Linked DNA regions of Homo sapiens: all the other regions are reported to be linked to region 3. Evidence: microRNA targets listed by miRTarBase, many of them from high-throughput screens and not tested one by one. Region 3 holds a microRNA gene; each other region holds the end of a gene's coding sequence.
The links. Region 3 holds the annotated microRNA hsa-miR-501-5p (AAUCCUUUGUCCCUGGGUGAGA, at 1,634-1,655, opposite strand). A microRNA usually pairs through its seed, bases 2 to 8, with sites in the 3' UTR of a target mRNA and lowers its output. Matches are read on the target gene's strand: a 7mer-m8 pairs with bases 2 to 8, a 7mer-A1 pairs with bases 2 to 7 and ends in A, and an 8mer does both.

Region 1: miRTarBase lists FSHB as a target of hsa-miR-501-5p. Seed matches in the 3' UTR shown: 7mer-m8 at 4,305-4,311.
Region 2: the mRNA of NELFE is a reported target of hsa-miR-501-5p. Seed matches in the 3' UTR shown: 7mer-m8 at 3,868-3,874.
Region 4: miRTarBase lists SIX1 as a target of hsa-miR-501-5p. Seed matches in the 3' UTR shown: 7mer-A1 at 3,467-3,473.

Annotation. Positions count from the first base shown.
Region 1 is chr11:30,230,873-30,239,000 of GRCh38, reverse strand. FSHB (follicle stimulating hormone subunit beta) reads right to left here and starts at 7,987. Exons shown (of 3, transcript NM_001382289.1): 1 at 7,953-7,987; 2 at 6,940-7,135; 3 at 3,807-5,431. The coding sequence starts at 7,098. The coding sequence ends at 5,201. All of the region lies in intron 1 of ARL14EP-DT (ARL14EP divergent transcript), which reads left to right.
Region 2 is chr6:31,948,319-31,955,970 of GRCh38, reverse strand. NELFE (negative elongation factor complex member E) reads left to right here. Exons shown (of 11, transcript NM_002904.6): 5 at 678-752; 6 at 875-912; 7 at 1,079-1,416; 8 at 1,529-1,673; 9 at 1,837-1,891; 10 at 2,140-2,242; 11 at 3,573-3,884. The coding sequence ends at 3,670. CFB (complement factor B) reads right to left here. Exons shown (of 18, transcript NM_001710.6): 7 at 7,459-7,597; 8 at 7,010-7,141; 9 at 6,627-6,728; 10 at 6,414-6,551; 11 at 5,824-5,921; 12 at 5,568-5,685; 13 at 5,199-5,352; 14 at 5,027-5,103; 15 at 4,727-4,827; 16 at 4,498-4,630; 17 at 4,367-4,416; 18 at 3,887-4,096. The coding sequence ends at 3,941. Among named protein-coding and RNA genes, the nearest start is that of MIR1236, 4.8 kb to the left of the region's middle.
Region 3 is chrX:50,006,053-50,011,389 of GRCh38, reverse strand. MIR501 (microRNA 501) reads right to left here and starts at 1,668; the gene lies at 1,585-1,668. All of the region lies in intron 3 of CLCN5 (chloride voltage-gated channel 5), which reads right to left. MIR500A (microRNA 500a) reads right to left here and starts at 2,959; the gene lies at 2,876-2,959. It overlaps MIR362 (microRNA 362), which reads right to left and starts at 2,426; the gene lies at 2,362-2,426. It also overlaps MIR500B.
Region 4 is chr14:60,640,257-60,648,384 of GRCh38, reverse strand. SIX1 (SIX homeobox 1) reads left to right here. Exons shown (of 2, transcript NM_005982.4): 2 at 1,808-4,964. The coding sequence ends at 2,102. SALRNA1 (senescence associated long non-coding RNA 1) reads right to left here. Exons shown (of 1, transcript NR_126480.1): 1 at 7,969-8,128. Among named protein-coding and RNA genes, the nearest start is that of MIR9718, 4.3 kb to the left of the region's middle. RefSeq lists enhancers at 1-244, 245-866, 867-1,489, 3,919-4,481.

The sequences.
Region 1 (8,128 bases), not on the chromosome of region 3:
ATATTTTTTGCAGAGATGGGGTTTCACCATGTTGGCCAGGCTTGTCTCGAACTCCTGGCCTCAGGTGATCTGCCCACCTTGGCCTCCCAAAGCGCTGGGATTATAGGCATGAGCCCCCATGTCCAGCCGAAAGTTGTACTCTTGAGAAATAATAACATTCTAAACCACTAACTGACAGAACAGATTCTTCTCTTGGCCAAGGGGACCCCATAGAAAACTTGGAAGCTAAGTTCATGGCATGATGGGATGGGAGGTCCGAAAGGCTTCATGATATTCCCTCCAAGCTCTTAGGCTTTCTTCCCTAAGAGCTAACTAGACACCAGCTTTTTCAAAAAAAGTCCACTCTGATAATATCTACTAGTTTATTTTCCCAGGTACAGAACAAAGAGAAGATGAGAGTAATCATTCCTTCACTCTACGCTGAGATGTCTGCTTCCTCCATTCCTATTTACTTTGTTCACCTTATCTTACATAAAATGTAGATTTACCGAGTACTAACTAAAATCTCACAAGTATGTAATCATTTGTCTCATTGCCGCACCGACTCCTCTACCTTTGTAAAAGAAAATGTATAAATATTAAACCTCCGAGAACCTCTTTGGAAAAACAGCCACAGATGTGTCTGTTACTTGAGTTTTTCCTGGATGCATCCTCAAACTGGCACAATAAACCTTGGTGACTGAGACGTGCCTTTCAATCACTCATTTTGGTTGCCACTATGATTACTACTTTCTTTTCTCCTATTGTACAACCACTAAGCCAATGCCATATGTGCTAAGGTTTTCATTAATGCAACACGCCACTTCCAGTACCAATATTTGTAAGTTAAAATAATGCATTTTTTAAAACGAATAAACTCACAAATGTCAGTGACTAGAAGTTTACGGTGTTGATGCATAGCATCCACACAGCCTGCTATAAGGGGTTGTTGATATTGGGCACACTGCTCCATGCAGACATTCGGGGATCCAGGTTGACAATGGTTCTGTTTTCATCAACACAAACTTTCCTAGTCACCTTCAGGATTGACATCCAGCAAATAGAGGAAGAGAATAGATGATCACTTATGAGAGGTTTTTATGGGCTGTGTGTGAAAATATGTGCAGTACTTCTGCCCACATTCCATTAGCTGGCACACAGATACACTTGATTGCAAAGAAGGTGGGAAAATGTTGTCCAGCTTTATACCCAGGAAGACATAGGCACATATCTTCGTAAGTAGATTTGAATTCTCTACCTCTGTCACTAAATGCATACTAATGATTGAGGCTTTGCACACTAGCTGTGTGACTTCAGACTAGGCTCCGGGCCCATTTCACTTTTCTTATATTAGGCATAAAATCTAAATTAAATGTACAGTGCATAAAAAGATGCCATGTTAGTTGTCAACTAGTAAACACTGAACATGCCTACAGGAATATAGTAAACACCTGTACAGCAGTCTCCTAGTTTTTTATATATTAACATTATATCATATTTGTAAGAAATAGAACATTATAAATACAGTTTGAGGCTCTCTGGGTACTTTTCCACAGTTCCATTTCTCCTTCACCTTCCTCACTACCATGAACTCAGTGTTTATTATTCTTATGTACTGGCCTCACATTTTTATGATTCAAGTGCTGCTGACTTACTGACCAGTTTTCAATTATAGTCCACCAAATATCTCATGGGATGAATGGCATGGTATTTTAGTTAAAGCATTTCAGGAATGGAAGGCCCCCAATCCTTCAATCCTCAAAACTAATCTCTAGATTCAGCAACCCTTGTGGGGAGCGGAAGAGGTAAGAAGTTAAATAATCAGAGGTCAGACCATGATAGGCCTCATGTTTCAGCTAAGAATTAAGATTTTTTTTCCTGAAAACAATTGGAAAGCTCATTAATTAATTGGCATGGTCAAAGTTGTGGTTTAGACACAATTTTTTTTTTTTTTTTGAGACTGAGTCTCGCTGTGTTGCCCAGGCTGGAGTGCAATGGCGCGATCTCGGCTCATTGCAACCTCTGCCTCCCGGGTTCAAGTGATTCTCCTGCCTTAGCCTCCTGAGTAGCTGGGATTACAGGCATGCACCACAATGCCCAGCTAATTTTTGTATTTTTAGTAGAGATGGGGTTTCACCATGTTGGTCAGGCTGGTCTCGAACTCCTGACCTGGTGATCTGCCTGCCTTGACCTCCCAAAGTGCTGGAAATACAGGCATGAGCCACCACACCCGGCCTAGACATACAATTCTTAAAGTCATGCGAGGACTGCCCAGAGCCAAGAGATGTCCACCATAGTGCTGAGAAGGGATTATCAGACTTCAACTAAAATGACAGCCCATGGAGATGGACCTTTTCTTGGCCTCCACCTGGAGGGTTCACAGGTTTTTGTTGCTGCTCCAGAAAGGAGTGTACTCCTATTTGGCATGGGAGTGCCGTAAGAAGAAACTTCTGCTTTTTACTCGCATTTTGACCTTGGCCATTTGAACTAAGTGGTAAAGGGGACTCTCTCCAGCAGGATTATAGCTCTGTTGGCCTCTGAAGTGCTTTAACTGCATTATATTTTTAAATCTGCCAGCAACTATGTGAGATAGTTACCATTTTTACTCCATTTTAAAAGTGAGAAAGGTGAGACCCAAAGGGGTTAACTAGTTTGCTCAGACCAGAAAGAGTATGAGCTGGGTTGTCCTTAACTTAAATCTGACTTTACCATTTTACTGCATTGTCTCTCTCAAGGGACAACCATCAACTAATATTTATTGAGGAATTACTATGTGCCAAGTACTGCTCTAAGCCCTTTTATCTGTTATTTCATTAATCATGAACACAACTCTCTAAAGCAGGAAATATTATTATCCCCATTATACAGTTGAGGAAACTGAGGTCCAGAGAATTTAAGTAACTTGTTCGAGATGACACATCTGCTTAAGATGATTGAGACAACATAAATCTGAAGCCATTGTCCTTTACTCTCCCTAATGTAAAGGTTTATTATTTTGGTCTGCAAAACTACAGGAAGAAGGAAAAGGCTATAATTTAAAGCATCTTATTCAACATTGTTAATATAGCCCTAATTTCAATGCATTGCTATAAGCCACACCCAATACCAGATTAGAAGGGACAGAGATGATTATTATAATAATATCTGTAGTTTTGCTTCAATCTTTACCAAAATGACTTCTTATTATGGTGGAGTAGTCAAAGGAGAGCCGGATTAAGAGCAAGGAGGCTAGGATTCTAATCCTGGCTCTGCCACAAACAGTCTTTGTGATTGCTGTGGTCTGAACGTTTATGTTGCTCCAAGATTCATGTTGAACCCTGATCTTTATTGTGGTGGTATTAAGAAGTTGGGCCTTAGGAGGTGATTAGATCATGAAAATGGACCTCTTATGTATGAGATTAGTGCTCTTATAAAAGAGACTTGAGGGAGCTTTCCGTTGTTTCCACTGTATGAGGATGCAGCAAAAAGTCACCAGCATTGAAGTAGGGAGCAGGCCCTCCCTCCCCAGACAAGAAATCCGCTGGCACCTTGATCTTGGACCTCCCAGCCTACAGACTGTGAGCAATAAATTTCTGTTGTTTATTAATTACCCAGTCTAAGGTATTCTGTCATAGCAGCCCAAAAGGACTAGGACAGTGATCTTGGGTGGGCCACTTAATATCACTGGGCTTTAATTTTTCCATCTCAAAAATTCAAGAAGTAAACTATAGAAACTCTAGTATCTCCACCCATTCTGTGATTCTCTCTATGCTTTTTTTCTCCCAAATTACATCAGAAAATGTCTTCAAAAAATGACAGGAAATTTAAGTGACAAAACACTTCAGAAATCCAACAAAATTATTTTTAATATCTCCAAAGATAAGGAAAGGTAATATTTATAGAAACACTGGGAATTATATTTTAAGATTTCATTCCACTAATATTATAAAATACAGAATATCTAAGTCATCTGTTTGTACATAAAACAATCCAAGCCTGTGACTCTGGTGGCTAGCATCTTTATTAAAAAAATAAGATTTAAATAAATTAGTTAAACAATATGAGTGTGAAACTGAGTGCATAACTAAGACAGTTAACACGTTTAAAAGAAATCAACTCATGAAATAGTTTTAATATATAACCTGTTGAAAGAAAGCACAGATTTGGGAGAACATGGATGGATAAAATAGAAGATTGATGTAGACAGGATCCTAGAAAACAGCAGTTTCCCCTCGTCCCCCATGGCTAATTCTTTCTAAAGGAGCTATTTATTTATACAAATATATTTGTAGACAAATTAATTATATTTATTAAATTGCTGAAACTGCTTTCAAACCTACTTTCAAATCCTTTGTCATTCCAAAGAAGTGGATCCTAGGGAGGGTAGGGTGAGATAGTTTGGTTTTTTCCCTTTATCTCAAAAAGGAGTTTTGCAGGAGCCTAGTAGCATGTGATCAATTTGTTTAAGTAATGAATAGAGGCAGGCTAATTTCCACAGCCCCAAATTACAATTTCTTGCCTTTGCCCTTAACTAACAGGCTTGGTAGTAATAGCTTGGAAATCTTGAGCTCTGTTACTCCCCATCTGTACCAAACAATTCAGAAAGATACATCATGTCTCAATACTCCATGTGCTGGAGAAAAGGCGAGGTGGAACTGATGCCACTAACTTTCATGGGACTGGTGTGGCTGCGGGCAGCCTCATCAGCTTACCTCAAACATCGTCTTCCAGTATTTTCTACCCTTGACCTTTCTGATCTAAAGAAGTCATTGTTGTGTTTCTAAGTTCCAGGCAGAGTGCTAGGCATTGACGCTACAATGCTGAAGATGCTGACCTTGCTCTAGAGGGCCCAAGAGTCTACCAGAAGACTGCTGCAGTTAGTTCTTTCACTCACTCCCATTACTGCTTCCTCCTTCTAGGCTTATGTTTCCCCCTAAGAGAGAGGCATTGCCTGAGAAGATTTCTAAGATTTTTAAAGAAGAAACCAGGCACAAGTCTGTGAGTTAAGACTGAATAAACCTTATGAAATCAGACCTAGGAATATAGAGCTGAATCATGATGGAGTCCTGGCCCCCAGCACTCTCAATTCCCAGAGTTCCCTCTGCCAGTAGACCAGGGATCAGTAGAGTCTGAATCCCCTGATCCAGTGGTTTGTCCCCTGGGCACATTGCACACACACAGACTTTTTGAATATCTTGGTCCTTCAGGACAAGGGTATGTGGCCTGAAATGTCCACTGATCTTTATTCTTTCATTTCACCAAAGGAGCAGTAGCTGGGCCCCAGGCCTCGCACAGTACAATCAGTGCTGTCGCTGTCACACTTGCCACAGTGACACTGGGTGGCCACTGGGTATGTATACAAGGAATCTGCATGGTGAGCACAGCCGGGCACTCTCACTGTTTCGTATACCAGTTCCTTGAAGGTACATGTTTTCTGGATTTTGGGCCTGGCTGGGTCCTTATACACCAGATCCTGAGGAGTTTAAGAAGAGAGTTAGGTTATGGTATTGTGGAAGTTCCTATTTAGCTTAGTCAAAATGAGACAGAAATTGAATACTGCTTGCTCTAACATTTACCCATTAAAACATGACCTCATAAATGACCTATATGCTATTTACATTTCTAAATTGTTCTTGAAATCTTCCAGAAAATACAAGTAATTTCTTTTCTTACTTCCTATGGCTATATCAAAATATTAACTATTTTTCAAAATATAAAGGAACTTTGAATTTTAGCATAGAAAAATGATGAAAAACATGACAGGATTTTAAGTTGACTTTTCATATTTAATTGAAAGCTGTATTAATAACAAACCATAAACAAAGATATCCAATGTCTCAGAAAAAATATTTTAAAATACACTGCCCTGAGTATTTATAAAAGGTCAAAAATATATAATTTTAAATTTTAATGCTTAAGTTAACATGTTTGCTAAGGCTAACATAAGATTTTAAATATTCCAACTCCTTGTGGACATTTTTCTCCCTTGAAAGCTGTATACTTTGCAGGGTTCCTAGTTTCAAAGGATATGCAGTTTGCATATAAGAATTTTTAATCCAGGTAGAAATTATTTGTAGTAGCACTTTCCAGTGGAAAAATTATTTATACTGCGTAGAGAAATTGGGGCTTCTGTTTATTTTAATATCATCCTACCAAATGTATATCCCAAGAAGGTGCAATAAATTGTGTAATAAATGGAGTTTGATCAAACTCATTTACCGTCAAATAAAGTATCGTTCATTTAAAAAGTTGCCATTTTCAATTTTAGTTTATAGAATGAAATTCTGCATAGATAATTAGGGGTGCTGCAGAGAAAAAAGAAAGCACCATGGAAACTATTTCTCTACTTGTATTAATGCAAGGAAACTGCAAACACAGACTAGCAACTGATGCCTCTATGTCTTGGTTTTCTCAATGCTATAACGAAGGGAGTGGGTTTGCTGATTCATTTTTGTTCTAACAGTCTGCAAGAATTGATTGTGTTCTCAGGCTGTTTTTTGGCATTTGTATTTAGTAGGGCCAGGAAGACAATTTTTTTAAGTGGCTGTCTATGTTTTTATGTGACTTGGAGACATATTTTGGTGTGATTTTGTGTCAAAGATGTAGTGTCAGTTAAAGAAATTGCCTTTATGAGAATATTATAGGTCCTTTATGATTAAATATATGTATGTTTCCATGTTTATCTCTCTATGTGTAAAAACGTAACATAGAAATACTTTTTCCCTGTAGATGCAAAGTTGGACTAGTACCAAATTGATCAGATTAAATCTGAGGCTTTCCTAAATTTACCCAAATCAAATCCAAGCCCAAACATCTAAGTGATATCGTGGTCATTAACCCCAATCACAACACAGACAGTCTTGGCTAAAGGACTCATGGCTGTTACTTAGAATACATAAAATATTGATAAAGTAGAAACTAATGAAACCGGCCTAATACAGACCTTCAACACCCTTGCTTCCAGCAAAACATGGTACCTACCCTGGTGTAGCAGTAGCCAGCACACCAAGTGGTGTTGATGCTTATGCAGAAACGACATTCTTCTTTCTCTATTGCAATGGTGATGTTGGTCAGCTCACAGCTATTGCAGCAGATTGCTTTCCAGCAACAGAAAAGGAAGAAAAACTGGAGTGTCTTCATCCTGGTCTGGGAAGCAAACAATGAAGCCCACTAGAAACTGAGAAACCAAAGAACGATAATCATTATGTAAGCTGACCAAACCAAAAATAATTGGTCTGCTCATCCTCCTCAATCACATTTTGCTTCAAAAGTTTTTTTTCCTTCCTTATGCCTTTTTACTTACATCTTTGTTTCTTGGAACAACATTTTTCCTTGTCCTTCTTCAATTTTTGGGTCAGGGTGGGAATATATTATAGATCAAAACTCCAATATAATGATTTAAGCAGAGGAATATTTAAAGATTAGAATCTTATTGCTGACTGTCATAAAGTAATTACTCTGATAATTGTGATCATCATATTTGTTCTTCCATTATTATTTTAAAGTCTATTTTTGTCTGAAAAGAAAAATAAAATTCTTTTCTTTTCTTGAGACAGGGTCTTGCTCTGTTGCCCAGGCTGGAGTGCAGTGGTATAATCATGAATCACTGCATCTTCAACCTTCCAGGCTCAAGCAATCCTCTGACCTTGGCCTCCCAAAGTGCTGGGATTACAAGCATGAGCCACCATTCCTGGCCAAGAAAATTCTATACTACAAAATTATGTCTTCATTTTTAGAATCTCATAAATATTTTCTTTTGCTCACATTTGTTTAAAATAAGACCATTTCAGAAGAGAGGCATATTGGTCTATAAAGTCAGTTACTTGCTAACAGTGATTACGTTATATTAACCATATTTTACAAGCCAGGTTGACAAGCATAAATTTCCTACACAACAGTAGTGAGAAGCTCTAGTTTTGTCCTCCATGTCCTGACAAATCTGTAATTTCAAAAGTAGCTGTCACCACTTGAAAACGGTAGATGCCAAGACTCACCTGTGGTCGGCTGCCTTGCCTGGCAAGAGCTGTAGACTGAATGAAATCTCAGTTCACCTTTTATACAAAATCATGTGCAACTAACACCTTGTGGATTTGTTGGGTATTAATATGACCAATGCTAGCCTGAAGCTTGCTGTAAGTGAATCAGTGTTTAGATAGACAGGGAGATCAAG
Region 2 (7,652 bases), not on the chromosome of region 3:
TGACAGCGAGACTCCGTCTCAAAAAAAAAAAAAATTAGCAGAATGTGGTGGTGCACACTTATAGTCCCAGTTACTGAGGAGGCTGAGGCCAGAGAATCACTTGAACCCAGGAGGCAGAGGTTGCAGTGAGTGGAGATCACACCACTGCACTCCAGCCTGGACGACAGAGCAAGATTCTGTCTCAAAAACAAAACAAAACAAGCCACAATGGCAGGTGCGGCAATGGCTCATTCCTGGTTAATTTCAGCACTTTAGGAGGCCGAGGTAGGAGGATTGCTTGAGCCCAGGAGTTTGAGACCAGCCCTGGCAACATAGTGAAACCCTATCTCTACAAAAAAAAAAAAAAATACAGAAATTAGCCAAGCATGGTAGAGCACATCTCTAGTCCCAGCTACTAGGGAGGCTGAGGTAGGAGGATTGCTTGAGCATGGGAGGTCAAGGCTGCAGCAAGCTACGATTGCTCTATTGCACTCCAGCCTGGACAACAGAGCAGGACCGTGTCTCAAAAAAAAAAAAAAAAAATAAGTAAAACCACGTCAAATAAGAAATGTATGTAGAATTAAAAGGGAAGAAAAGATCAGAGGAAACCTAGAAGAGGGTGAGGGAAGAGGAACACCTCTGGTCCATGGTTGGGCAACCTCCTGCTCCACACTGAGGTAGGTCTCTCACCACTCCAGGACCCCGAGAAGGGACCAGTCCCCACTTTCCAGCCGTTCCAGAGGAGCATATCTGCTGATGATGACCTGCAAGAGGTAAAGGCTCCTAATTTCTGTCCCTGAGGGGTTGGGGATGGAGGAATATGAGAGACAAATATATTTTGGACCACATGTCAGCAACTGGAAATCATCTTAACTGTTCTTGGTCTCTTTTACAGTCATCCAGACGTCCCCAGAGGAAATCTCTGTATGAGAGGTTAGAGAGTAGAGATAAGGCTGGGCCCATTTGGTGGAGTTGATTGCCTGAGTCCTTGGGAGGTTTGGGCTGTAGGAGCTGGGCTATAGAGGGAATATTGAGTCTCCACAGGGTCTGAGGGGAGAAGGTAAAACCCCCCTTTGATCTTCAGTCTGCATCTCCCCAGCTTTGTGTCTTCTAGTGATCGACTTCGAGAACTAGGACCAGATGGAGAAGAGGCAGAGGGCCCAGGGGCTGGTGATGGTCCCCCTCGAAGCTTTGACTGGGGCTATGAAGAACGCAGTGGTGCCCACTCCTCAGCCTCCCCTCCCCGAAGCCGCAGCCGGGACCGCAGCCATGAGAGGAACCGGGACAGAGACCGAGATCGGGAGCGGGATCGAGACCGGGATCGAGACAGAGACAGAGAGCGGGACAGGGATCGGGATCGGGATCGAGATCGAGACCGGGAACGGGACAGGGATCGGGAGCGGGATCGAGACCGAGACCGAGAGGGTCCTTTCCGCAGTGAGTGATTTTGGCTGGAGGTCAAGGTGACCTTAACTGAGGTTTATGTGGGTCCTACTAAGTGAAATGTGGCATGGTCTATGTCTTGTGACTATGATTTGTGCTCCCAAAGGGTCGGATTCATTCCCTGAACGGCGAGCCCCTAGGAAAGGGAATACTCTCTATGTATATGGAGAAGACATGACACCCACCCTTCTCCGTGGGGCCTTCTCTCCTTTTGGAAACATCATTGACCTCTCCATGGACCCACCCAGAAAGTAAGGATGACAACAGGGCATGATGAGAAGTCCTGGGAGAATCCTGGGGTGTGAGACCTGAGGGAAGAAGCTGCCCTCCCTGCAGCCGCCTATTATCACTGGGTTTGGTTGGGTCCAGAAGAGCCCCTTGGCTCTCCACTGACCGTGTTTTCTCTTATCCCAGCTGTGCCTTCGTCACCTATGAAAAGATGGAGTCAGCAGATCAGGCCGTTGCTGAGGTTGGAACTTCCCAAATCTGTTCTTCCCATCGCTTCTGCTGTTCTCATGTGTTCTCCTCAAAATACTAGATGCCAGGAAGAAGTTGGTTCCTCTTGATAAAGAAAGCCTCTCCCTATTCACACAGAAAAACTCACATTCTCAGATTCCTTATTCAGTCTCCTCCTAGGATAGCAACTCCTGGAATAACTTCTTTGGTTTATCTGTAATGTTTTCCTCCCCATCCTCTGCCTCCCCTCTTCTGCTTCAGCTCAACGGGACCCAGGTGGAGTCTGTACAGCTCAAAGTCAACATAGCCCGAAAACAGCCCATGCTGGATGCCGCTACTGGCAAGTCTGTCTGGGGCTCCCTCGGTAAGAATGGGATTCTTCCTTTCCCATCCTCTCCCCCACAGGCCATTCCTTTTGGTTCCCCCACACATCCTTGGGTTTCCTAGAGATGATCGAGGTCAGAGTGTGTGCGGAGGCTATGGGAATGGGAAGGAAAATTTCAGATCCTCTGTCAGTTAGAGGTAAAGAAAGGAGAGAAAAGGATTGAAAACAGCTTCCAAAGCAGTGACTGGAACAGGGAAGAAAGTGGGAGCTGGAGTGAGATTGGTGAGGAAGATGAGTGTCTCATGGGGCTTGTTCATTTTGAGATGGAGTAGAGTGAGTTTCATAAGTATTCGAAATCAGGGATCTGGAACTCAGGTGTGAGGTAAGGAAGGAAAACATAGATTAAGTCATCCACATCACAGGGTGGCTGCCAAACAATAGGATCATCAGGGAGACTCTGATTTCAGAGAAAAAAAAACGACCCAGGACTCAGTTTGAGGAGTACTCTGGGACTATGTTAGGAAACAGGACTGTTCACCTCACACCCCACATGTCCCCAGCTGTCCTGACATGTTAGGCTAACGTTGAGCCTAACGTTAGCAAAGGAGACAGGAGGAGGGGTCGGAGGGCTGGGAGCAGCACCGCAGGGGCCTGGGCCACTGAAGCAAAAGGACACACACTTTGAGAAAGAGGGAGTAGCCAGCAGTGTTGAGGCACAGAGATCACAGGATGGGAGTGGGTGAGAGAGATTCTCTGTAGCTCAAGGGTGGTGGGGATGGAACCATTGGATGGGGTGAAGAGAGTAACATGTCTGGTGGAGGGAGGAAAGAGGAAGGGGAAGAAACAGCTAGAGGCTTGAGAGAGAATGGTGAGGGCCAAAGCTACACCCTGAATGAGTTCTGGTGGAGCTAGTAGCATTTCTTAGTGTGAATAATCCATTTTCCCTGAAAGTAGATTTTCCTGGGAAAGGAGTGAGCAGAAAGAAGGGCTCAGCTACAGTGGCCCTTCAGGCAAAAGAAAGGAACTAGAATTGACCAGCATGTCAAAAAAGGGCTACAGAGGTTTTCTAGTTTTTAGCTTCTGACATACTGACTGTAAGTAGTGGGTTAATATCATTCACGTGTCTCAACAATGACATTTGGGATTTTTCTAAGAACAAAACATTCATCAAAATGTCCACTTATACTTTTCTTGGCCATGGGTTGGCACAAAGGAGCTAAGGAAGACAGGCCATCCTGGCCACCAGAGGGCAGCGTGGAAACTGGGCTTCCAGGGGCCAGTGGCCAGGAGTGAGGTGGTCAGGAGTCAGCCTCAGGGTCTGTTCTATGATCTCCTTTAGACCTTAACTGTTCCTCTCCTCCCTCCCTAGCTGTCCAGAACAGCCCTAAGGGTTGCCACCGGGACAAGAGGACCCAGATTGTCTACAGTGATGACGTCTACAAGGAAAACCTTGTGGATGGCTTCTAGGGAACAGAGCTGGATTCCTTGTGCCTCATATGCCCCAATGCTGGTCTCAGTAAAACACTGAGGTGGAAGCTTACACATCTCCCTCAGCCTCTGGTTTTTCAGCACTTGGGATTGGGGTTAAACCTTTAAAAACGGCTGTCAGGTTTGATCTCAGTGTAACAACATGGCCAGTGCCTGTTCCCCACTCCCTTGCCCCAAAAGGATCTGGAACACAGGTGTTGTCGCAGCTGTTTTAATTCAATCCCACGCCCCTGTCCAGCAGGAAACCCCTTATAGAAAACCCAAATCCTCATCTTGGAGTTTCTCCTTCAGCCAGGGCAGCACTTGAAAGAGGTTGATGTGAAAGTCTCGGGCGTGAGCAGGTACCTGCTTTTGCCGCTTCTGGTTTTTGCAGACATCCACTACTCCCCAGCTGATTACACCAACCTGCAGAGGCAGTGGGGTGCCATGGATCATTCAGTAGAATTCCTAATCCTGGAAGCATGGCTGTTCCTGCTTGTGTCTTAGCTGACCTAAAGGAATCAGACTAGGGACCCAGCTCAGCCTCGTTCTTGACACACGCAGGCAAGACATGCGGTCCTAAGGTGAGGCAGGCTCTGCCTACCTCGAATTACTAGCCACATGCATTGAGCTTTCCTGCTTTGGGGCCCATGCTGACCACTTGGCATCTCCCCAGATAGGAAAGGGAGGACTCACTTGAATGAAACGACTTCTCTTGTGAACTATCAAGGGGCCGCCAGAATCACCTGCAAGGAGAGGAGAAGCTGTAGAGAAAAGGACTGTTGGGCCTTGGGCACTTGTAGCACAACCAAAGAGCATTCTCTCACCTCTGCAAGTATTGGGGTCAGCATAGGGACTCACTCCTCCAGTACAAAGGAACCGAGGGGTGACCACCTCTGAGATGTCCTTGACTTTGTCATAGCCTGGGGCATATTGAGCATCTCTCTCACAGCTGCCTTTCTGTAGGGGAGGTGGGAAGCATGGAGAAGTAATGAACAGAAGTGGCTTAGGAAGGATTGGGGCCTAGAGTGCCTCCTTAGGATGCCCGTTTCTCACCTTATCCCCATTCTTGATGTAGACCTCCTTCCGAGTCAGCTTTTTCTCCTCCTCAGACACAAACAGAGCTTTGATATCCTGTGCAGGGAGCAGCTCTTCCTCTGGACGAATAGACTGCGTCACTTCAGCTGCTCCCACCACTGTCATCTCCCCATTGCCTTTGTCACTCAGTAGATGTCCCCTAAGCCCTTCTAGAGCTAGGTTCTGGGCCAGGCATCATCTCTTCCTATTGCACCTCCCTCTCATGCCCCACTTGTCTCTTGGGATCTCATCCTTATCCTCTTGCCAAGTATGTCTTACTTTGTTGCTGGCAAGTGGTAGTTGGAGGAAGCCTCAAAGCTCGAGTTGTTCCCTCGGTGCAGGGGAGACAAATGGGCCTATAAAGGACAAGGAGAACAGCAAACCAGGCCTGCTCCTCACCCCAGTCCTCCAGCCTTTCCCAGCCTTTCCTCAGGGATCTGGACGCTCTCACCTGATAGTCTGGCCATATTTCAGCTTATTCTTGAGCTTGATCAGGGCAACGTCATAGTCATAAAATTCAGGAATTCCTGCTTCTTTTTTCCCATTAATGTTGTAGTTGGGGTGAAATAGGACTACTTCTATCTCCAGGTCCCGCTTCTCCCCTCCTGAAGTAGGAGAGTAGGTACCACCTCTTTGTGGGCAGCTTCCTGCCTCTGGCCCCGTGTCATTCCTAACTTCACGTCTTCCCCCATCCCTGACTGGTCTGGGGTGCAAGGAATGGGGCTGCATTGAGGATGGGTGGAGTGTAGGATCTGTAGAAAGTGGGAGGTGTTGCCTGGAGAGCATAGGTGCAGCCCAGGACCTTCAGTTGCATCCTTACCTACGCTGACCTTGATTGAGTGTTCCTTGTCATCCACAGTGAAACAATGTGCTGCTGTCAGCACAAAGTACTCAGACACCACAGCCCCCATACAGCTCTCGTGTCCCTTTGAAGGGCGCTGGGGACACAACAGTAGAGAGGGAAAGCTCAACTTTCACAAACCACCATCTCTTATGGCCATTTTTTCCTTCCCCTACTCCCATTTCACCTTGACCTCACCTCCCCCAAGTCCCCACTACTGGGATTCTGTGCTTACAATGACTGAGATCTTGGCCTGCCATGGTTGCTTGTGGTAATCGGTACCCTTCCTGTGTTCCCAAACCATGCCACAGAGACTCAGAGACTGGCTTTCATCTGGCAGAGAAGGAGAATGTGCTGAAAACTCGGAACACTTCATTCCCAAATGGCAGCAGCCTTTTGGGTAGGAGTCTATGGGGAGCAAAGGCCCAAAAGGAGAAAGGGAAAGACCACGGGTATTTGTTTCCTCGTGTTAGGAGAAAACTGCTATGGTGGACTGAAAAGGGAAAGAACTTGGGATCAAGCTGTCAGAGGCCTGGCTGTTTTCAAGCCCACCCTTGTTGCTAACTTGCTGTCCCTTGACCTCCTTTGGCTTCTGTTTCCACGTGTCAAATGTAGGACTATAGAAAGATCTCTGAAGTGCTCAGAGCTCTGTGATTCTAAGGTTAAGTGAACAGTGCCAGGAAACAAGAATAGTGACACTGAGGTAGAGAAGGAGGAATGAAGAAGGCTTTCCAGGCAACTAGAGCTTCAGGTGTAGAGGAAGAATGAATTACTTCAGGGGAACCTGAGGAGAGTTGTGTTCTTTATTCCCTTGTATCTCCCTACCGATCATTTGGTAGAAAACATCTTCCAGGTTTTCCATATCCTTGACTTTGAACACATGTTGCTCATTGTCTTTCTTGGAAGCCAAAGCATTGATGTTCACTTGGTTCACCAAAGGCCCGACCCCAAACACATAGACATCTGAGGGATAAAAAGGAAGGATGAGGGTCCAAGCCCTGAGGAAGTGGGGTGCTGGGTCCTAGGCAGGTTACTCACCCAGATAATCCTCCCTTGGGTTTTTGCGATCCTTGCCAATGTATAGCAAGTCCCGGATCTCATCAATGACAGTAATTGGGTCCCCGCCCATGTTGTGCAATCCTGCAGAAGAGACAGGACCATGAGGGTAGGAGATAAGGAAGATAAACTGGCTAAAGGCAGGGATACACATGGCAGGGTGAGCAAGTTGAGGAAGGGTTAGAGATAGTTGATCACAGGGCTTAGGAAGAATTCCTTATGAAGGGTCACAGGAGAGATGAACAGCCAGCTATGAGTCACATTCAGGGCCCCAACCATGGGTATAGTGTTACAAGTGGACTTAAGGGCCACATGCTGGTCTGAGAAGGTGGGGAGGCTGGGACAGGAGAGAGGTCCCTTCTGACCATCAGTCATGAGGATGATGACATGGCGGGTGCGGTTCCAGCCTTCAGGAGGGACGTCATCTGGCCAGCTCATCATGCTGTACACTGCCTGGAGGGCCTTCTTGGTGTTAGTCCCTGACTTCAACTTGTGGTCTGTGGAGAGGGAAGAGACCATCACCTCACCTGGTCTTCCAAGCCATCTTTTAACCCCAGAGACCAATCTGCAACTGAAATCCCACATCTTTCAACTTTTTAAGTTAATCATCATTACACGGACTTCCCTTTGACCACAAAGTGGCCCTTCCAGCCCCCAACAGGTTCCCACTAACCTCCATTGCCCAACGATCCTGCTGTTCAACTTTTGACTACAAAGTGGTCCTCCCTGTCGCCCTCAAGGTAGTCTCATGACCCCCTCCACCCTGAACCTCCTGACCCCAAAGTGAACCTCCCACCATTCCCTAACCTCTGACCTTCATAATTGATTTCATTGAGCTGCTTCGTGACCCAGTCTGCATTACTGCTGTCTGCTTCAGACACTTTGACCCAAATTTTGGGGTATGTGGCATATGTCACTAGACCATATCTTGGCTTCACACCATAACTTGCCACCTGTGGGTGAGGAGAACAAGGCGCCATGGCATTGAAAATAGAATACTGTGATTGG
Region 3 (5,337 bases):
CATTTATGTATAGTGTGTTTATGAGTCCCTACCAGAATGTAGGGTAGCAACCTGTCCATTTTGATCCCTGCTATATCCTTGGTGATGAACATAATACCTGCTGTCTAATAGACACTTGAGTATCTGTGGAAGGAAGAGGAGGGAGAGTTGATGTGCAAAAGCTCTGTCCTTTTAAGTGTAGACAAGGCTTCTTCCCTTGGAATTCTTGAAAAGGGACAGTGAGTCAAGGCAGTACTGGCACACAGGCTGAAAGAATGTGAGTGATGCACCAGGTCAGAGGGACCACTCTGTGAGGACATGTCTCTGTGGATGTAACCAAGTCAGGCCCTTTCTCTTGCACACAGCGTATTTATGTGTGATTGTACTGAGGTTTAGTAGATTCTCCAACATGTATCTGTACCCCACCCACCCTGTACCCCACCCACCCTCAGGACATGCAGATATAATGAATGAGAAGGAGTCCATTCTCCTCCCTGAACTGTACACTCCATGAAGGTAGGGAACCAGATATGGCTCATTCTCTTGTGGGCCAACTGCCCAGGACAGCACCTGCAATAGAGTAGGTAGGTACTCAACAAATAGTCATAGAAAGGATGGAAGGAGGAGGTAGAAGTGCTCTGTCCTATGCGAAGATGTCACTCCCCCTTGCAGAATCCTTGCCTGGGTGCACTGCATTCAGAAAGCACTCTCACCCAGGTAGCAAGGATTAGAGAGGGGGAACCAGGACAGGAGATTCCAGTACCTGTACACCTCACATGTGCATCTAACAAGAAGGCTTGCTGTTCTTGCCTAGTGCATTAACCTTGCATTGAACTAAAGTAGAGAGAAGTTGCTTCGACAAGTATCAGGCTGGGTGCAGTGGCTCACACCTATAATCCCAACACTTTGGGAGGCTAAGGCTGGTGGACTGCTTGAGCCTAGGAGTTTGAGACCAGCTTGGGCAACATAGTGAGACCCCATCTCTACAAAAAATAAACACAAATTAGCCAGGCATGGTGGCACAAGCCTGTGGTCCCAGCTATTTGAGAGGCTGAGGTGGGAGGATCGCTTGAGCCCAGGTGGTTGAGGCTGCAGTGAACTGTGATGGTGCCAGTGCACTCCAGCCTGAGCAACAGAGCAATACTCCATCAAAAAAGAAAGAAAAGAAAAGAGAGAAGAAAAGAAAGGAAAGGAAAGGAAGGAAAGAAAGAAAAGAAAGAGAAAGAAAAAGAAAAGAAGGAAGGAAGGAAAGAAGGAAAAAACAAGAAACAAGTATCAATGTGACAGCAGGAATGAGAAGACTCACACTTATGGGTGGGTTAAGGTGGGAAGAGGGTAGATAAGAAGTTCCTATGTGGCCCACTCACCCTCAGTATATGCAGGGGCAATGAGTGGTGACAAAGTCCATTCTCCTCTCAGGCTATAATATCCAGGAAGGCAGGGGCGAAGTCTGCCTTGTTCATTTCTCTGTGTCCAATGCCCATCATGGTGCCCAATACATATTATTTGTGGAAGGAAAGAATGAATGAGGGTCAGAGAGCAGGCAGGCAAGCAGCAAGCAGCTGAGAGGTGACATACAGATCTTCTGTTCTCCACGCAGAGGGGGCTCACCCTCTCAGAATCCTTGCCCGGGTGCATTGCATTCAGAAAGCACTCTCACCCAGGGACAAAGGATTAGAGAGGAAGAGCAGAGCAGAAGACTCAGGCACCTGCACCCTGCATGTATATCTCCATATATATTTGACTTTCATGGTCCCATTCCTGCAAAGTATCTCTGTGTGCATTTGCTAAGACAGATGCCTCTCCTCAGGGATAGCATATGTATTCATCCCCCTGCACAAGGCCACATGGACATGCCCTCTCAGACAAAACCTCAGACTAGAATGAAAGATATGAGTGGCATCTTTTTCAGATCACACTTGAGGGTCTGCAGGTGCTGGATGTATTTGGGGCCTAGCAAGGAGGTTGGGACAAACTGTATGTGGGCACACATGTACATGCACATGTTGGAAGATGGTACAGAAAATTGGGATACTTCATTCTCTTCTGTTTCTCTGGTAAACTATAAGCTCACTGAGAGCAAAGACTGGCTGTGCAAGTCTCATCACCCAATGTGTGTTTCCCCATTACAGTATCTGACACATAGTAAGCTGGGAGTAAACAGAAAGCTCATGCTCTCAAAGAGGTGTAAGCTTGTCCAGGGCAATGATGAAGTTCATTCTCCCACAGGTGCCCTCTACAGAGCCCAGGGACCTTAGCTGTCTTATTTACCGTTGTATCTCCACCACCCAGTGCAGGATCTGGCACCGCATAGCAAACACAAACATGTGAAAGAAGGGGACAGGTTGTTGGTCCTTCTACATGTAGACAAGGCTCAGCCTCTTTGAATCCTTGAATAGGTGTGTTGCACTGAAATAGCACTCACACCTAGGTTCCAAGGATTCAAGAGGGGGAGCAGACAAGAAGGCTCTGACACCTGCCCTTTTTGTGTGTTTGTATGTGTGCATGTGTAGCTATAACCAAGTCTCACTCTCATGTATATACAGTGTCATTTACTAGGGACTTTACAGAAAGGCAGAGAATCTTTTCTCCTGCAGAGTTCCATGTGAGATCAGAGAAGATTCATGCTTTTGTGTATGTTTGTGGGTGACAGTGGTAATGAGAAGTCCACTCTGTGGCCCACCCACTCTCAGGGCATGTAGGTGTAATGGATGATGAGGAATTCCATTCTTCTTCCTCAACTGTAGCTCCATGAGGGTAGGGACCAAGCATGTCTTGTTAGCAACTGTATGCTCATTACTCAACTTAGTATCATATACAGAAAAGGTGGTCAATAAATACTTGTGGAATGGATGATAGGAGGACAGAAAGACGCTCTGTCCTACACGAAGATGAAGCTCTCGCTCTCAGAATCCTTGCCCAGGTGCATTGCATTCAGACAGCACTCTCACCCAGGTAGCAAGGATTAGAGAGGGGGAGCAGAACACAAAGCCCTGTGAATGTTCAGTGAGAGGGCTCATTCTTCTTCACACAAGGTACTTACTTGTCATGATATAGAAGTAAAGAGAACAGTTCTTGAGCTTTGCATTAAAGATGTCTAGTTAAACACACATTTTGTCTGTTCTCTCAGATAGTAACAACAAAAAAGTATAAACCTATAAAGAGACTGGGAGGAGAGAGGAGTGTGAAAGGGAGGAAAGAGAGAATGAATATAACGCCAAAGCTCATGATCCCGCAAATGCTTTGTGTGACTATGCAACAAGAAGGCAGTACAGTTTAGCACAGTTGTTCTCTAACATGCACCAGAATCATCTGAAGACCTGGGTAATATACAGGTTACAGAGGTTTCTGACTTGGTGAGTCTGGGGTGAGACCCAAGAATTTGCATTTCTAACAAGTTCTCAGGTGATACTGATGCTACTGGTCCAGGGACTACACTGGGAGAATCACTAATGTAGTGGAAAAACCAGGCACTTTGGTATCTACGAACCTTGGTTCAAATGCACGCTCTACCACATATTAGCCTAGAGAATCGACCTGATTTTCCCAAGGTCAAGTTAAACACTTTTGAAGAATGAGGACAATTTAAAGCCTACCTCTTAAATGGTGTCAAGAAAATGAAATAAAGTATAGTACCTGGCACACAGCCGTCAATATTTTTACCTCTTACTCTCTATTTTTATGTATATATGTGTTTGAATGAATGTGCATTTTTAAGGGGGATGGTGAAACTCCTGCATGCAAGGGACAGGTGAGAGAGAAGAGGTCCGAGTATCTGTGAGTGTGAGTGCCTGCACAAGGGGATACACAGATTCATCCTCTTAAATTCCTCACGTGTGAGTTGATGAGGTTCTCCTTCAATCTCCCTAGGTCAACAAAGTTCACGCCCCTTCACATAAGGGATATGAAGGAAAACATCAGAAGTTCCACTCTCTCTGTGTGTGTGTGTGTGTGTGTGTGTGTGTGTGTGACAGAGAGAGAGAGAGAGAGAGAGAGAGAGAGAGAGAGAGAGAAAGAGAGAGAGAGAGAGACAGAAAATGAGTAAAGATGGGGGCATCTGGCCCTGTGAGTATAATCAAAAAGGCTCCTGTCTCTCCTGTCCCTGTATGCTCACATGTCTGCATATGCTGGGCACCCAGCCACATGTGGGCCTCCCTTGCATGCTCATTCTCCTGTATGCCTTGCTTGTGCACATGTGCATATACGAGTATTTGTGTATCTGTGATTGTGAGAGAGAACATTAACAAGGAAGTGCATCTTCATTCAACAGCTACCTAAGGGAAGAATGCCGAGACAGCTCACTGCCCTTTCTGGGAGGGCAAAGAGAGTAGAGTTAGGGCAGGAAGGAACCACCCACTGCTTACCTGATCAGTGGGACTCCGTGTATACAGGTCTACATCCCTAGATGCCTGACCATCCTGGGGGACAAGGTGGGGTGCTTGGGGGGTGGGAACTAAAGTAAATTCATTCTCCAGTATCCCCAGCATGTGTGCACACCTGCACAGTGAGTACAAATGAGCTTTATCCTCCTATATGTGCTAGCTAGGCAGTACACTCAGGGGACTGTGGCTGTACTGTTCTCTTCTGGCTCCCTACAGGAGTAAATAATACTGGCAGGCAGCAGGAGAGGTAGGCGATGTACAAGGGCTCTGTCCTTCCATCTGCAGCTAAGGCTCACCCCATCTGAATCCCTGCCAAGGTGCATTGCATGTGGAGAGCACTAGTACCAGTATCAAGGATTAAAGAGAAGGAGCAAATGAGAAGGCTCAGGCACCTGTACCCCAAGGATAGCATGGGAGTTAGGAAAGAAAAAGCTCCCCTTTTCCAGCCCCTTGAACACATGAAGGCAGGCTGAATGGGAATGATGAACTGTGTTCTCTGGCACAAGCTCACCCCACAGTAAAACCAGGGTCCCTGATGCTCTTGCCACTATTGGATCCCCAAATCCAACAGGCATTCAAAAAGCTCTCTGAAAGGAACTAGGAGAGGTGACAGGCACTCTCTGCTCTGTGCATAACATACCATCTGTGAGTCCTAGCCCAGGTGTACTGCACTGGGACAGCACTTGCATGCGGATGCTACAGATTAAAGAGGCAGTGTCAGCATATGTACCCAACTCATATGTGACAAAGAGGGAAGAGAGGGCTCAGTCTCCTACTCCTCTTTCTCTCACACTTCACATGCAATGTATCAGTAAACTCAACTGGCTGTAACTTTAAAATATAACCACTTTTTACTACCTTCACCACGATCACCCTGATGTAGGCCTCCATCCATCTCTCAACTGAATTATTTCAATGGCCTCCTAACTGGTCTCCCAGTTTCTGCACTTTCTCCTCCTATTTGCCATACAACAGT
Region 4 (8,128 bases), not on the chromosome of region 3:
GGGAAATATTGGCGCTAGATTTGGTCTTTATGCCTCCCTGGCTGGCCGCGGCTATGAGTGGTGGGTGGAGAGTGAGTTTCTAAATCAACGGGCAGTGAAATGTTGATTGGTGTCGCAAGGAAAGGGGTTTGGTGGGAGCTGAGGTTCGCGAACCTCTCTCCTCTTGCTCCCCAGAGGGGTGAAGCTGGCCTGAGACATTGGCTCTGCCCCCACTCCCGCCTGGTTCTCCACAGCTCTCTCTTGATAGTCTTTTGGTTTAGAGGTAGCCTGCTTCATTTCTCACTAGCTGGACAAATGGAGGAGACTTTTAAAGATACAACAAAAAGAGAGCTTTGGGGAGAGTTGGCGCTGCATTTACTCCCCGGCGCCCCAAATTAAGAAAGGGTTGATCCTCGCCGTGCTCGCTCGCGCGTGGCCCGGCACTGCAGCCCGTCGGTCTGGCTGACCGCGCCGCATGCCCAGACGAGGAAAGGGTCTCCAGTCGCAGCCCTCTCTCGCACTGGAGCTCACAAGGCAATATTTTAAAAATTGGTCTCTACTTTCCCCCACCTCGGGGCAACACCTTCGGCCACCTGGGCAGGCTCCTTCTGTTCTCTATAGCGTTTCGGACAGAGATTCAGAAGGACGGTGGGGAGGTGGCTGTGGCGGGGAGAGCGCTCCGCGAAGCCAAAGAGTTTGGGGGAAAACCTGAGCGCAGGGGCCGGTTAGGTTTTCCTTTGTTCGCTTCCAAGACTAGGGGCCGAAGATCTTGCTCCCTTTCTTGTCTTGGTGGAAAACCAGAGCCAGGATAAATTCTGCTGAAATGGGCTTGTCGGGAGACAGAGACTGTGAGGATAAGGGGAAAGAAAGGAGACAGACAGGCGCTAGGAGTCGGGAGGACTGACGAGCACTCGGAAGGCGGAAGCGGCGAGGGAAGCGAAATCCTGAAGTTAACCGGTACCGAGTGCCCGGACTGACGCCCCAGCGCGCCGCGCCCGCTGGCAGCCTGTGCGGGGCGGCGAAGTTTCCCCTGCCCAGAAAGGATGGGTTGGGGTGGGTGTTGGTAGGAAGTTTGAGAGGGGGACACGAGGGGCTGAAGAGTTAGCAAGTAACACAGGAACAGGGATTGTATGGTTGCAGTTAGCCTTTAGTTACAAAACGGCCGTCCTATAAGCCAGGCCCGAGGGCCGACTCCAGATGAAATCAGAGACTGGCTGCGCTCCCTGTGTTTACTCAGGTCACTGGGCCGCGCTGGGCACCACTTCCCATGACCTGTTCTGTGTCTGCAAAACCACCAACTCTGGGCTGGGGCAGGAAAACGGGATGTTTAATTGTCTCCTCATATGCGAACAAGGCAATGGACTTGATTCACCCCAAACATTTGTGCATTGGACTCTGTCCTCTATCATTTCTTTATCACCAATATCTATTTATTGAAAGATTTTCAGTTACATTTAAATATGTTGCTAGTTTATATGTATTTAAATGTAACTGCTTGAACAAAATTTAAAACATATATTTTGTATGTTTCAAATAAATCCTGCTAATCTATCACTTTCTGAAATCTGGAAGAGAAAAGGACCTGGCTCCTAACAGGAGGCTCTGTCCGTAGCTCTCCATTTCTCCAGGTTCCTCTGACTCCTCACCTCCCCCATTACCCTTGGGGATGGGTGGAAGGGTAGAGCTCCTCCATTTGGGTTGGTGACAGATTGCACAATGGCCCTTTCCTCCTTCCAGCTCCCCTCCCTCCATCTCACACTTTTTTTTTAACCTACTTTTTTTTTTTTTTTTTTTTTTTAACCATATGGTGTTGTCCTCTATTTCTTAGGGAGAACACCGAAAACAATAACTCCTCCTCCAACAAGCAGAACCAACTCTCTCCTCTGGAAGGGGGCAAGCCGCTCATGTCCAGCTCAGAAGAGGAATTCTCACCTCCCCAAAGTCCAGACCAGAACTCGGTCCTTCTGCTGCAGGGCAATATGGGCCACGCCAGGAGCTCAAACTATTCTCTCCCGGGCTTAACAGCCTCGCAGCCCAGTCACGGCCTGCAGACCCACCAGCATCAGCTCCAAGACTCTCTGCTCGGCCCCCTCACCTCCAGTCTGGTGGACTTGGGGTCCTAAGTGGGGAGGGACTGGGGCCTCGAAGGGATTCCTGGAGCAGCAACCACTGCAGCGACTAGGGACACTTGTAAATAGAAATCAGGAACATTTTTGCAGCTTGTTTCTGGAGTTGTTTGCGCATAAAGGAATGGTGGACTTTCACAAATATCTTTTTAAAAATCAAAACCAACAGCGATCTCAAGCTTAATCTCCTCTTCTCTCCAACTCTTTCCACTTTTGCATTTTCCTTCCCAATGCAGAGATCAGGGAAAAAAAAAAAAAAAAACCCAAACAAACAAAAGCACCCAGGCACCCAGTCTGAGTTCTGGGCAACTGATACGCCTGTTTCAGCAGCCTTTCTTTTTTTTCAATGAATGGGAATTGCAAATCAACTGGATTTTCATTATTTCCTTTTAATTTATATATGGAGAAATGTGAAGAGGGAAAGGAAATGGAAAGAGAAAGAGAAAGGGAGATAAAAATAGTGAAAATAAGAGCCTCCAGGCTCAGAAGAACTGATTACATTCTTAAGGTGAACAGGAAAAATACAATCTATAACTTTCTTTGATGAGGAAAAATTAAGTTTACATTTTTCATATTTAGTGTTAAACAATTTAATGTAGATTAAAATAAAAGACCAGTATTAGGAGGAAAAAACAAGTGCCTAAATGTCTTAATGCTCTCTATGTGAGACAGAAATAGACGTGACCATTAGTAATGCAACTATTTTTGTCAAATTTAGTGGGATTTTTTGGTTGTTGTTTGTTTTCTTGGGTTTTTTTTTTTTAAATGACAAACTCTAAAAATGTACCAATGTGAAAAAACACTTTCCTGAATGCCATTACTCATGCCCTCAAAGCTTTCATATCTGTAGCCTACTCCTGTAAAGGGTTTCTCCTGTTTCTAGTTTCTAGTTTGCAAAGGTATGCCAACGAATCTGGCAACCTGGTATTTGTTACTAAAACAGCATGTGTTTTCAGGTTTCTTTTCTATTGTACCTAAAGCAGTCTAAATTAAAACTTAGTAGAACACCAGGAGTATGATTCTGTTTCTGAAAGGTGAGTGGTGTATTGCTGTCATTGGGCCCTATTTTTTTTTTTAAATATATTTTTCTTTCTTACTTAATGGTGGCTGTGAATTGCAGGGTACTTTGAAGGCCATCATCTGAACCAAGAGTAGTAACTAGATTAATTATATGACAGAAAGAGTGAATTTAGCCTTGGGGTATTTATTAACTTCTATTATTTAGATATGCAATTTTGTTTACCACTATCTCTTCACAGCATTCATATGTTAACTAAGCTCTTTTGTGTTAACAAGTTTATGACAAGACTGTGAAAGTAAAAATAATTTATCTGCTTGAAGACAAAAAAGGGAAGGAGAACAAGGATAGAAACATTGTGAATTAATTTGTACAAATAGAAAGCAGACCAGCAGGACAGGAGCTCTTTTGCAGTGCTGCCGGATGGTGTCTAGAAAAATCCCAGTAATCATGTAGGCTCCATATTATTTTTGCCTGGGGCAAAATGATGTATCTTCTGTATTTAGCTTTTAAAATTAGTGAAACAAATGGCATTATTTATTAAAATTCTACTCAGGATAACAGGATTGGCTTGCTTGTGCTTTGTAAAATATTGTTCCCCAGGGAGAATCTATTTATTTTCTGACATGACAGTTTCATAATTTTGATTTTTTCCCATCTATAATTGTCACCATTAATATATTATTTCTTTCTTACTCTTTCCTATTTCTGTTCTGGTCTAGAAAACTGAGGTGTGCTTGGGGAAATCAAGGCCTTATTTTTTAAAACTGTCAAATAGCTTTGAGTTCCAGGGAGAAATGGTCACTGTACTTAACTGTACACACTTTTACTTATAAAGTCGTTTTTCCCCCTCAGTGATGGACAGATGTGCACACAGCCACTCAGAGACCATCATTTGGTTTGGGAGCTCAGGGTCCCAATCTCCCTTGTTAGTGTTTTGGATCATTAAGTCGGTGTTTATTTAAGTCACTAGGGTGTTTATTCTCCCTGTCTTGGGCCACGGAGAAATGCCACCCTCTGCAGGAGGGGCTCTCACAGGGAATCTCCTCACATTCTTCACATTCACTCCCCAAAACAAACACCCTGCACAAAGATAGCTTTCAATGACCCTGACAGGCTTCAAAGGACGCTGCGGAAATCTCTCTGGAAAATAGGAAGGGCCAATTACTTTAATTTCTTACATGCCGTCTCTTCCTACTCCGGTGACTACCCTCCACTCTCCCAGCTCCGCCTGGGATAATTTTAGGCTCGTGGAAGTTGTGTCTCGCAGGGCGCCCCGGCCCACTTCCTGCTCCCTTAGTTGGTGAATCTTGGAAATGTCTGCAGATCCGGCGAGGAGCAAGAGCGCTGGTCCTGTAAAAGCCCCCGTGATTACTGCTTGTAAACTTGTTAAAAGGACAATTTTCTGTCACAGTCATAAACTCTTTGTAAAACCCCTGGCACTAAATCCAGAGCGCGCATATTCCAGATGTGTTTAATAAGAAATTGCACAATGTGCCTCCTTCCGCCATCCTCGGCTCAGTCTGGGTAAAAGGGGCGAGCAGGAGGAGGCGAGAAAGCTGGATATTGCTTTGAGTTTTTTTGGCAATCATTTCAGAGAGATCATTAGGGGAAACTAACCATATTTTTTTCTTCCCTCGAGGAAATCTTCGAGAACCAGCTGTTAAGGGACCTCCAGTTTACCTTCTGGGCGTCGCAGTTTAACTGAATCTAAAGCCACTTTTCGTTTCTCCTCTACAGATGTCATAACGGTAGCCAAAAGTAATGAACAACGGCTTATAAATAGTTTGTAGGACGAAACCATACAGCATTGTGCCAAGTGAAATGAAAAAAAAAAAAAACACTCGAGTGATGTTTATTTTTTAACGTTTTAAACCTAAACACGCGATTGTTCGAGTCCCCACTCTCTGCTCGCCTTGACCTCTTGGCTGAAAACGAAGCTTCCTAAATTCTCAGAGGCCAAGGGGTTTGGCTCCCGGTTCCCGAATTTTTGGCTTAGTGGGTAGGGGCTCAAGAGCCCAGCGAGCTACAGGGACGGAGAAGGGCACCGCTGGGGCTGGGCACCACCGTTCTTGAACCTGTTCTCTGGGCTAGGACAGCGTGGCTGGGGCCGGACCCCGGGCCGGAGTGGAAGCTTCCAGAAAGAAGCAGTGGCGTTGGCACTTATGGATGAGCTCTGAGTTTGCTGAGCAGCGACCCTTATTAGCGGCTCTCCCTTGTCCGCTGAGGGCCAACGGGACACCTGGCACAGAACTCGCGCGGAGCGGGCCTTCCTCTGCTCTGTGGCAGTGGCACTGCTGCTGCTGCACCGAACGCGGCGGCGGCTGAGGCTGGAGGGGGCTTCATTTCCTACTGCCTCCCCACCGCCTGCAAGTCTTTGGCAAAGTCCGAAGGCAGGACTCCAGGTTGTGGATCCAATAGAGGCTTGTATCCCGCACTTCTCTAGCGGCAGAAGAACTGAAGATCTTTTCCTGTCATCCGCGCACTTCGGAGGCTGTTCTTGCCATTGGGCCCTGGAGAGGCGCGGGAAGCTCGGGCGCCGCTGTCCTCGCTCCGCGCGGGGCAGAGCCTCCTCTCCACCGGTTCAGAGAGAATCGCGCGCATCTCAAGACCCGGATCATAGCGCAGCTCCAGGAGCAGGGGGCCTAGTGGCCCGGCCCGCGGAGTGCCTGAGAGGAGAGGCTGCCAGTATGGATTCGAAGGCCAGACAAGGGAGGAGGCCTCGGCCTGAGCTTCGTGGTACAACTCAGCTGTCGTCGCCTTGGGTACCCCGAAGCCAACTCCCAGGCCCAAGTCTCAGTCGCCCTCTTCGGAGTCTGAGAGCTAAGCTCCAGGCGAGGCACGTGAGCGGCGCTGGACACCCGGCTGCCGGGCTGGTCCCCGCCCTGTGGCGGCAGGATAAAGCCGCCCTGGCAGCGCGTTGCGCCTCCTGCCCGACCGCAGGTGTGAGCGCTCCCTGCCTCCCAGGCCCCGCGCTTCCCGCACAGGGCAGATGGCGCAGGCCTTGGATCCTGGTTCGGAGGCGGCCTAGGCCCTGCTGCCGATTCTCCAGTGCCCTTCTTGCTTCAGACACCTCCTGTCTCCTTCTTCGCTTCCTGGGGTCTTGGCTTTGGTTTTCGGACCCAAACTCTTCACCCGCGCGCTCTGAGGAGGGGTGCCAGGTAGAGAGGACGTCACTTTCTGGGCTTGTCGCTAGAACTTCCCGCGGCAGAGAGAGGGGCCCTGGCTTCTAGTGTCTCCAGCAGAACTGGGGGTGGAGGAGCTCCACTTTCTTGGTGGGGCCAGGTCAGGTATTTCCTTCTTAGCCAGCGGCCCTAGGGAGAGCAGCGGCCTTGTCCCCCACGCACAGCCCTGGCCCCAAGGGGAAGGCACCAGCCTAGGTCTGCAGCGCGCTTCGGGTCAGGCTGTCGCGGCTCACCTTCTGCCCTGATTTGTTAGGGTGGCGTTGACAGGGACAGGTGGGTTAGGTTTAAGGTGAGGGTGGTCGCTGGTAGCCCACGTGCTCTCTCCGCTCCATTTCTCTTTTTTCCAAGCTTTCCCTTGGAGGGGACTCTAAAAACTCTCGGAGACTACCTCCTTCAGCTGCCCGAAGCCAGCGCACTAGTGTGTGTCCCCACCGCGCCCCCATGGACAATTCACACTGAGGGACCCGAAGGCTCAGTCTCATCGCCTGCACGCGTGTTCCGCGACCTTAGCCAGGTAGGCACTTCTGAGCCTCTTAAGGGCATAGTGGCCCCTCCCCCATTCTGACCGAATCCAATAATTCCACCTGGAAGAATATCTAAAGGGGTTGAGTTAGATACGAGTGGTGTGAGCCAGCCAGGAACAAAAATAGCCAAAATCATAGGCGAGTTGTTGGCTATTGGTCTACCCAGAAAAAGCGCTGCCCTGGAAAGGCTGCATTTTCTCTAATATTTTAAACCAAGTACTCACACACACAACTTGGGTCCAGCTGATGAAATTGGAAACCTGTTCTCCCACTGAGGATGACAATCAGGGTTTTAGACGCTGTGGTCCTTTCAGACAGCGAGAAACAACACTGCAGTAGCGTTTAAAAACAAAGAGAAAGAGACTGCTTGAGGCGCGTGGACGCCTGTCTCTTCTCCAATGGAGTTTAAGTTTCTCGCCTTTTAACTTGTTAATGGACAGCTGAGACCCCAGTTCTCAGCAGATAGAGTCCAACCCATCACCTTAAGGTTTGCTCCCTCCCGCTTTGCTACCTGAGAATCTTCCCTCCTCCCCTCTCCTTTCGGGAGAGTGCTCACTGTTTTCCTTTGCCATATGTTAAATATTCTTGAAATAACATTCTTTTTTTTTGTGATTAAACAGAAAAATGCAGGAACAAGCAAAAACCTAAAACCCAAAACTCAAACAATCTTATCTTGGAAAGAGAAAACAGTTACCTTCAGATTTAACACATACTTAAGCTTACCTGAAGTGGCTACCCAACTGTAATTAAAGTATGGTTAGGTGATATTGGGTACTCTCCCTTCTTTACTGCCATTAGTGGTTGCCATTAAAAAGATAAATAAGTAGACAGAGAGACTCTGGCTCTTTGCTTACTATAATAAGGCATGGAAATTAGTTACTATAATAAGGCATGGAAATGTATACCACCTCCCTTCATCTGGTCCCGTCCTTTCCATGCTAACTTAGAAGATCAGTGTTTTATGAGACTGACATAAGTAGACCCAAGTAGAAACACTCGTGGATTAACACAAGGCAAATTTACTTTAAGTTTCTATATAATTTATTTTAATTAGTGATTTAAAATTGATTATTGGTTTTAAAATGCCATGGCTTATTTACAGTAGAAACATTCTTTGGTGGTGGGGGGAGGGGAGCAGTGGGGGGTTGGTGGTGGTTTAAGACCTGAGCTGATATGCATGTGGGATATTAAAGGGGGGAAAAAACAGTCTAGACTACATATTTTTACTGACATAAGCCATTAAGTGTCAGGATTCTTAAAGAATATTGAAATGTTAAAGAACATTTCATAGACATC